Regions from separate parts of the Homo sapiens genome. Here region 1 is linked to region 2. Evidence: fine-mapped QTL for protein levels in blood plasma. A gene starts in region 2. The other region holds a variant in brackets. All regions are shown on one strand. Distances are from middle to middle.

The links. PIP is the posterior inclusion probability: the model's chance that the variant is causal. The UK Biobank Pharma Proteomics Project read protein levels with antibody pairs (Olink). The fine-mapping took linkage between variants from a reference panel, not from the people measured, so its PIPs are less certain.
Region 1: its variant is fine-mapped to the plasma level of the MST1 protein (UK Biobank, PIP 0.93).

The regions. Positions count from the first base shown.
Region 1 is chr3:49,752,221-49,756,608 of GRCh38, forward strand. The region is part of intron 1 of IP6K1 (inositol hexakisphosphate kinase 1); the gene reads right to left. Among named protein-coding and RNA genes, the nearest start is that of GMPPB, 30 kb to the left of the region's middle. The variant G/GT (reference allele first, on the strand shown) is at 2,376.
Region 2 is chr3:49,687,161-49,691,548 of GRCh38, forward strand. It overlaps MST1 (macrophage stimulating 1), which reads right to left and starts at 2,314. Exons shown (of 18, transcript NM_020998.4): 1 at 1,438-2,314; 2 at 590-737; 3 at 396-508; 4 at 204-318; 5 at 1-125. The coding sequence starts at 1,531. It overlaps RNF123 (ring finger protein 123), which reads left to right and starts at 2,397. Exons shown (of 39, transcript NM_022064.5): 1 at 2,397-2,446; 2 at 3,970-4,087; 3 at 4,265-4,349. The coding sequence starts at 4,006. RefSeq lists enhancers at 1-151, 1,668-2,227.

The DNA.
Region 1 (4,388 bases), 65 kb after region 2:
CTCACGCCTGTAATCCCAGCACTTTGGGAAGCCAAAGCGGGTGGATCACAAGGTCAGGAGATTGAGACCATCCTGGCTAACACAGTGAAACCCCGTCTCTACTAAAAATACAAAAAAATTAGACGGGTGTGGTGGCGGGCGCCTGTAGTCCCAGCTACTCGGGAGGCTGAGGCAGGAGAATGGCGTGGAACCTGGGAGGCAGAGCTTGCAGTGAGCCGAGATCGCGCCACTGCACTCCAGCCTGGGCAACAGAGCAAGACTCCATCTCAAAAAAAAAAAACCCAAGGAACCATTTCACTTTTGCATGTGTGTGTGTGTGTGTGTGAGTTTCGCTCTTGTTGCTCAGGCTGGAGTGGCAATGGTGCAATCTCGGCTCACCTCAATCTCCACTTCCCAGGTTCAAGTGATTCTCCTACCGTAGAGACGGGGTTTCTCATGTTGGCCAGACTGGTCTTTAACTCCCGACCTCAGGTGATCTGCCCGCCTAGACCTCCCAAAGTGCTGGGGATTACAGGCGTGAGCCACTGCGCCTAGCCTTTTTTTTTTTTTTTGAGACAGAGTCTCACTTCGTCACCCAGGCTGGAGTGCAGTGGTGCGATCTTGGCTTACTGCAACCTCCACCTCCTGGGTTCAAGCAATTCCCATGCCTCAGCCTCCCAAGTAGGTGGGGACTACAAGCGCACCCCACCATGCCCAGCTAATTTTATTTTTGTATTTTTACTAGAGACGGGGTTTTGTCATGTTGGCCAGGCTGGTCTGAAACTTCTGACCTCAAGATGACCTGCCTGCCTCAGCCTCCCAAAGTGCTGGGATTACAGGCATGAGCCACTATGCCTGGCCGCCATTTCACTTTTTGCCATGAGACTGTCAAAAAATAAAAAGTCCACAAGCTCTGCATTCCTTCCCACCCCCATTTTCTCTCTGCCTTCACTTCCTACCCTTGTCTCCCCACTGCTTATTATCCCACTCCAGCCATACTGGCCTTCATGATGTTCCTCAAACACATCAGGCATATATATATTCCCTAGCTTCTTTGCACTAGTCATTCCCTCTGCCTAAACATTCTTCCCCCAGATAACCACATGGCCAACTCCCTCACCTCCTTCAAAAGTCTTTGATCAAAATGTCTCTTTCTCAATGAAAGGTCTATCCTACCCTCCCTAGTTTAAAATACACCACCACCTGCACCCTCCACCCCCTTTAATTGGCTCTTCTTTTTCTTTTCTTCATTAAGGCATTTATCCCCTTCTGGCATATTACATACTTTACTTACTGATAATGTCTACTGTTTATTATTTATGATGATGATGTCAGTTATATGAGTATCCTAAGTGCCCTGAGTAGTACCTGGCATATAGTAACTACACAATAAATCTGGCTGAATAAATATATGTATGTTTATGATATACATAACAGATGTATATAGTAGGGTAAATATATAACATATGAAAAAGTGTTTATAAAGGGACAAGTTCTTTTTGTTTTAAAATATTAGGGTTATAAACCAAAAAAGTTTACATTTCTAACCTAGACCTAGCAAAAACCAGAACAAACGGGTCATGTGGCTTTATGAAAAACAAAATATGTTGGCCACATGACAGAATTCGAAGTCAGCAAATAAAAAGAACATAAAATTGTGTTTTAACTCTTTTAAGATTTGATATATGAAGGAAAAATAGGTTTAAATGCACCCAAATGAGAATAGCCACAATAACAAGGACAAAATCAAAGCAAAATACAGAAGGAAAAAGACAGCCTATGAGGAGGAGAATTAGACTGTTTTTATCAATGATACAAAAGAGATTAAAAAGGGGGAAAAAAATCAGGCAAACACATAAATAATCTCAACTATAAAAGATTAATCAGGCCAGCTGTGGTAGTCATGCCTGTAATCCTAACACTTTGGGTGGCCAAGGCTGGAGGATCACTTGAGCCCAGGAGTTTGAGACCAGCATAGGCAACATGGCAAAACTTCACTTTTACCAAAAAAAAAAAAATTACAAAAATTAGCCAGGCGTGGTGGTGTACACCTATAGTCCCAGCTACTCAGGAGACTGAGGTGGGAGGATGGCTTGAGCCCAGGAGGTGGAGGTTGCAATCAGCTGAAATCATGCCACAGCACTCCAGCCTGGGTGACAGATTCAGATCTTGTCTCAGGGGAAAAAAAAAAAAGATGAATCAGGCCATGTATGGTGGCTCACACCTGTCATCCTAACACTTTGGAAGGCCAAGGTGGAAGGACTGCTTGAGGCCAGGAGTTCAAGACCAGTCTGGGCAACATAGCAAGATGCTGTCTCAATGACAATAATAATGATAGTAAGGAGAAGAACCAGACTAAAGAACTTGTTGAACCAAATTTAGGAGAAATCATATGA[G/GT]TTTTTTTTTGTGTGTGTTTATTTTAATGCAACAACACATCAAGCCTAGAAAGTGACAATGAATAAAAAACCTTGGCAGGGAAAAAGAGACTGCAATCAGATATAGTGGCGAACAAGGTCAGGACTACTTTAAGAGCTAGGAAGGCACTGTCTCTACAGCAATTGCAAGACAATACCTGGTCACCAGATTCTTTAGTTGGGCAGGCACAGACACACACTAAAAATGCAGATCAGCAGGTATATACTCTAAGAAGTTCAGTTAGAATTCCAAATTATTTGGCCAACATATTTTTACAACCTCAGATTAACCACTTGGGTTTGATATGCAATCTTTTTTTTTTTTTTGAGACAGGGTCTCACACTGTTGTCCAGACTAGATTGCAGTGGCACAACACAGTTCACTACATCACTACAGCCTCGACCTCCTGGGCTCAAGTGATCCTCCCATATCATCAGCCTTCCAAGTAGTTGAAAACACAGGTGTGTGCCACCAAGCCTGGCTTTTTTTTTTTTTTTTTTTTTGTAGAGACAGGGTTTCACCATGTTGCCCAGGCTGGTCTCGAACTCCCGAGCTCAAGATATCCACTTGTCTCGGCCTCCCAAAGTGCTGGGATTACAAGCATGAGCCACCATGCCCAGCCACATTTGCAATGTTTTTATAGAATAAAGTGAAGCACCTTTAGTGCCTTCACATTTCACAGGTATATTTGCAGATTTCCTCAACATTTCATTAAAAATTAGTTTATAAATCCAGTATTTCTATTACCTCTTCTAAAATTAAATATATCCACTTAAGCACTATAGGTACCATGACAAAGTATCATACCCTTTTTAAAATTCATAAAATTTGTGTAATTAAAGTTAAACTTGGTAAGTCAGGAATGCTAAGTAAAATTCTGGCAACAGTATTTTTGGTTTTGGCAAATGTGTCTTTAATTTGTTTTTTACTGTATGATACAATCCAAAGGAAAAATAATAAAACTAATTGAACTGAAAAGAGCTGAAGAGAAAATAAACTGATAAGTCACTCTAACAGAAAAGAACAACACATAAAACTTGGGCTATACAGCTCTGGATTTTATGAAAACTAATTTCTAATTAATTTCAGAAATAAAAAAGCATTGACATGGACTTTGACAGGAAAAGATACCAAAACACCTTCAAGAATCACAGACAAAAACACTATAGCAGAAAACCAACATGAAAACACGTTTGTCCTCTAAATCTTACAACCAAGGGAATCCAATGATTTCTTAAATTCAAGCCCATTCTTCCCTTTGTATATGAGACTGTAGACACTGATATAGATTAGGCATAGTTATGAGGGTGAGAGAGAACAATCCTCCTGTACCGTGAGGAGAAGGGAAACATAGGGAGTGTTCTTCATGTAAGTAGGGCTGTCAACCCTACTTGGAACCTACCCTTCCAAGCTACTAGGGACTGGCACATCCCTCAGAAACCAGAAATGTGTATAGATGTCTAGAGTAATCTGGGAGAAGAAAGAGAGGGAATCTATGTTGCCATTTGTCTCTAAAGAAGAGATGAAAGATTGTTTAGATTCCTGGGTCCTATCACAGGAGCTAGGAAACCATGGCATCCTGAGGCCACCTGGCTAAGAACAAACAGGGAACAAGGAAAAAAGGAAACTTAGCAGGGGACCTGAGATGTGCCAGCCCATCAACGAACAGCAAGAACAGAATTAATTTAGGTCAAGGAGAGAATCTAGAGTCCACTGAACCTCTTTCCTGTTTTTACTGGATTCCTAAAGATTAGAAATATGTGCTTCCCTAAATACATTTTTTAGTAAAGACCCTTTTGACATCAGCTGTGTCAAATGTACTAAGAAGTGGGGGAAAGGAGATATGTGAAGAATTTTCAGAACTGACGTTCAAAGTGATACAGGGGAAATCAAAATGAAATGCACAAAAAGAAAGGAGAAGGGCCGGGCGCAGTGGCTCATGCCTGTAATCCTAGCACTTTGGGAGGCCAAGGCGGGTGGATCACCTGAGGTCA
Region 2 (4,388 bases):
ATTTGATGCCGCAGCTCTGGAAGCGCACAGCAGGGTCTGTTGTGTAGCACCAAGGACCTCCGGGGTCGCCATCAGGGTTACGGCAGAAGTTCTCTTCCAGGCCATTCCGGAGAGTGGGCGTGTACCTGAGGGCCCAGAGCATCACTATAGTGTGTGCTGGGGGAAGGCCCCAGGCCGGGACGGAGGGAAGGTGTTTGTCTCACTTGTGATCATTTGGGAACTTGTGGCTCCAAGCCTGGCAGGGCAGGCCACCCACGGTCGTGGCCATGGTGCCCCGGTACCCAACCCCATTGTTCATGATGCAGGTCCGTACGTAGTCTGGGAGCAAGAGACAGAAGATCAACTTGGGCTGAGGTCCCCTGTCTCCCACCCTGCCCCTCTCCACCCCCACTTGCCTTTCTTCTGGAAGAGGTCACAGCGCCCAGAACGCCGCAGCCTCGTGTGGGGCGAGTGTTGAGTCCATGGCAGCAGTTGGCAACCATGGCTGCTCACGTTGTAGTGGAAGGCCCTGGAGAGAAGAAGGCACAGGGTAACGCCACAGCCCAGGCTTCCCTGCCCCCAGTCTTATCTAGGCCCAGTGGCCACTCACCGGCAGTCCATTAAGGGCCCACAGCGACCAGCACACTCTTCAGCATCTGCCACATCCTCCTGCCAAGGCCCGGGCACCACCGCATGTAGCAGGTGCTGTAGCTCTGTGCCCCGGAGCACTTGGAAGTCATTCAATGGCGAGCGCTGCCCTGCAGAGTAGGCATGAGTGGGTGCAGGTCAGGTGGGCATACATGTCAGTAATGTGTATTGGCATGTCCACACTTTGTTCATTCAGGGGATCAAAGCTACAAGGCTTCTGGGATGGACCCTGTATGCACTTTCAAGGGCCAGTCTAGCCCCCTGCACAGATACTTGTGAAAAAAATTTCCCCTGGGAAGCAGGCCCAGACTTGGTAGTTATCACCGGTGCCTCTGTTTAGTGGCCCAGGCACCGGGCTCAGATCTAACACATACGCTCTGTGAGAGCAGTGGGTGATGAAGCTTGCCCCACCTCATCTCTCAAATGAGAATGCTAAGGCTCAGAGCCATCACATTACCCAGCCAGGGGCCCTGGCTAGGCATTCAGACTCCAAATCTGGGCTCTCACCTGCACAAAGGCATATGCTAGGTTAGAGGGGTAGATCAGGCTCAGGAGGGGTCACTGCCTGCTGTGTGCGTGCATCTGTGTGGTCCTGACACTGCTTCAGTGCTAGAGCAGACGTGCTAATAGAGGCCTAAGTGGGCAATGTCTATGTGTTCCTAGGGCTTCCCAGCTGTGCTCAAGAGGGCAAGGTCACTGCCCCATGCCCACTGAGCCTCTGGCTCCCCGACTTTTTTCTCATCCTAGAATAGGAGAATGGGGCCAACCCCCTCCTGAAGGCAGATGGGGATCAGGGTTGGGGGCACTTACCAGGGACCCCTAAGCATTGAGTCAGAAGCAGCAGGAGTGGGAGCCACCCCATCCTTCTGGCTGGAGGCTGCACTGTGACCCACCACAGCCCCATCCGGGAAGTTGTGAAACCTGTCCCTACGGGATTGGGTGGCTCTGGCTCCACACGTCAGCTCAGGGCCTGCTGGACCCTGACCTGAGACCTGGTGACAGGAGCCATGAGGGGCCAGGCCTCAGGTCCCATAGGTCAGTTGCAAGGGCCTAGTACAGCTTAGTGGACAGGTGTTAGGAAGGTTTGGTGGGGACACTTGAGGTGCCCTGGGGTTGGGGTGAAACCCCTCTGCAGCCTAGTCAGCCCAAGGGCATTGTGAAAGTGAGAGCTGCCAGAGGTCTGGGCTCCAGCCCCTGGGTGACATTAAACTTTTCTGAATTTCGGTTTTTCCCTGTAAATTGGGGAAAATTACTTGCCCCAGCTTCAACACTGCCTCCCCTCCACCCTTTTGCTGCTGCCTTATCAGGCCCCAGCTGTAGGCAGGTCAGCCCACACCCGGCGGCAGAGCCCAGAGAGGCTCGCTCATCTCAGCCGCCAGAAGTGTCATCCCAGGGAAGGTGAGCGAGGCTGTCCACTAGGACTAAATAGGGGTGGAGGTAACAGGTAGCAGGGACTCTGGCAGGAACGGCCTTTCAGACGTTTTAAGGACCGTCTGAGCGGGGCCTCTAAGTATGGGTAGGAGACAGGCGGCCTAGGGATTCCGGTTAGCATGTCGCGTTCTGCCGCAGCAGGGCTGGGAGCATCCCCAGAGCAGGCGGAGGTCGGAGGTGGTGAGGCCTTTCGGCGAAGCTGAGGCCTGGAACAACCCGGTGGGAAGCCATGGAGGGGGTCCCCTAGCGGAGGCTGGGCGCGGGCCAGTGCGCGTGCGCGGCTGGAGGCTCAGCGCGCAAGCGTGCGCGTGATTTGGCCCTGAACGGACGCCGTAGCCAAGAGGTTGGGCGGATGTTGTGAGCCGGGTCGCTGCGGCCGAGGCTCCGGGTGAGTGAGGGGCGGCAGGGCTCTGAGCCTGGCGGGTTCCGGCTATTCCCTTCGCGGTCCGGGCTAGTCCAGTGCGAGGGCACCTGCAGCGCAGGGATCTGGGTGCGAAACTCCGAGCGGAAGCTGGTCTGGCAGGTCCTGTGGAGCTTGGGGCCAGGCGGGGGCGACTTGGGGGAGCCATGCGCCGCCCTCGCCGTCCTTGGGCTCCCAGACGGAGTAGGTTCAGTTCTGAGTCCGGATACCCCGGCGGGGTTGGACGGGATAGCCGTGACAGGGAGTCCCCGGGCGGGGACAAGGTCCGCCTCTCACCTGGGTCCTCAGCAACTGACTCCCGGAGCCCACTCCGGGTGTCTGGAAGGTCTGCTCATCAAATGAATGACTGAGTTTAATCAGATCTTCAACTACTCTGGTAGTGAAGGGGCACCGATCATGGACGCCCACCGAGGGCCCGAGGTCGGGAAAATCACCTTCCCGAGGAGCAGGCGTGGTGCAGACCCACAAGGGTTTGTGGCGGGAGTAGAGGGTCTGTTTGGGGTGAGATAAGAGACTGAACTGCAGAGTAGGGAGTGCTGGCTAAGGCAGTGCTGCAGAGCGAAACTCTAGACCTGCGCTGTCTAATAGAACTTTATATGATGGTGGGAACGTTCTACCTTTGTGCTGTCCAACAGAGTAACCATTAGCCACATGTGGTCATTGAACTCTTGAAATGTGGCTAAGGCAACTGAGAAATCGAATTGTTAATTTTTAAAACTTTAAATTTAAGTAACCTCATGTGGATGACGGCTGCTGTGTTGGACAGCACCGCTACACATCAGTGAGGCCAGCACCAGGGACTCAGTGCAGGTTCTGGAGCAGCTGCAGCAGCAACATGATGTGAGGGATAGATGCACTAGGAGGACCAATGGAGTTTGCCATGAGGGCTGGGCAAGGGTGGTGCTTGGATGAGGTGGGAGGCCACATGTGTGAGTGGGAATGGTGAAACTATCAGGACCATGGATAAAAGAAGGGAGGAACCCAGGGCTGAGGAAAGAGGCTCCAGCCTTGTGGGGAGTAAGTGGGACTTATGGCTAGAGATGACCAGACCAGTGGTGGTCTGCACTTGGGGGAATGTGTAGGATTGTCGCTTCTGGTTGTGAGCTGGACTCAGTATGGCTTACAACTGAGATGGATACAGGGGCTCTGCCCCTAGGACACCTCACTTTGGACATTTTGGTCTGATTTCCACAGAGCTGAGACATTTTGTTATGGTTCGGCAAAAATATATCTAGTACCTGCTCTCTGCCCAGCCCTGTGCTGGGCACAGGGACACTGGAGAACAAGAAGTGGTCCCTGTTACATGGGCCTAGACCCTGGCTACCCTCCCTGTGTAGGAAGCTGGGAGCCCCTGCATTCCCCTGCCCTATGTGTTAGTGTGCATGCCCCTGGCCTCACCTGCTCCCAAGCCTTCCTGCCATGGCAGGACTGAGGTCAGGTGTGGGGGCCCCTGGCTGGCCCTGAGTAGACAGGCTCTGTGTCTGGCTCAGCCCCCAGGACCACTGGCTGCCCATGAGAGATGAAGGATGGCATCCAAGGGGGCCGGCATGTCTTTCTCCCGCAAGAGCTATAGGCTGACCTCAGATGCTGAGAAATCCAGGGTCACAGGTAAGAGCTGGCAGGGAAGGAAGGAGGCTCCTCTTGTTGGGAGGAGAAGGAAGGGACAAAGGCCTCAGGCCTTGCTGCACCTGTGGCTGGCCTAGGACCAGAAGTCTCTGGGGCCAGCAGGGGCCAGGAGCTGCACTGATCATGTGGCCCTTTTCTCCCTTCTGACTTGTGGCTCAGGCATTGTGCAGGAGAAGCTGCTGAATGACTACCTGAACCGCATCTTTTCCTCTTCTGAACATGCACCCCCAGCAGCCACCAGCAGGTATGGCTGGGTGGGTGGCCCCTCCTCACTCTGCTGGGC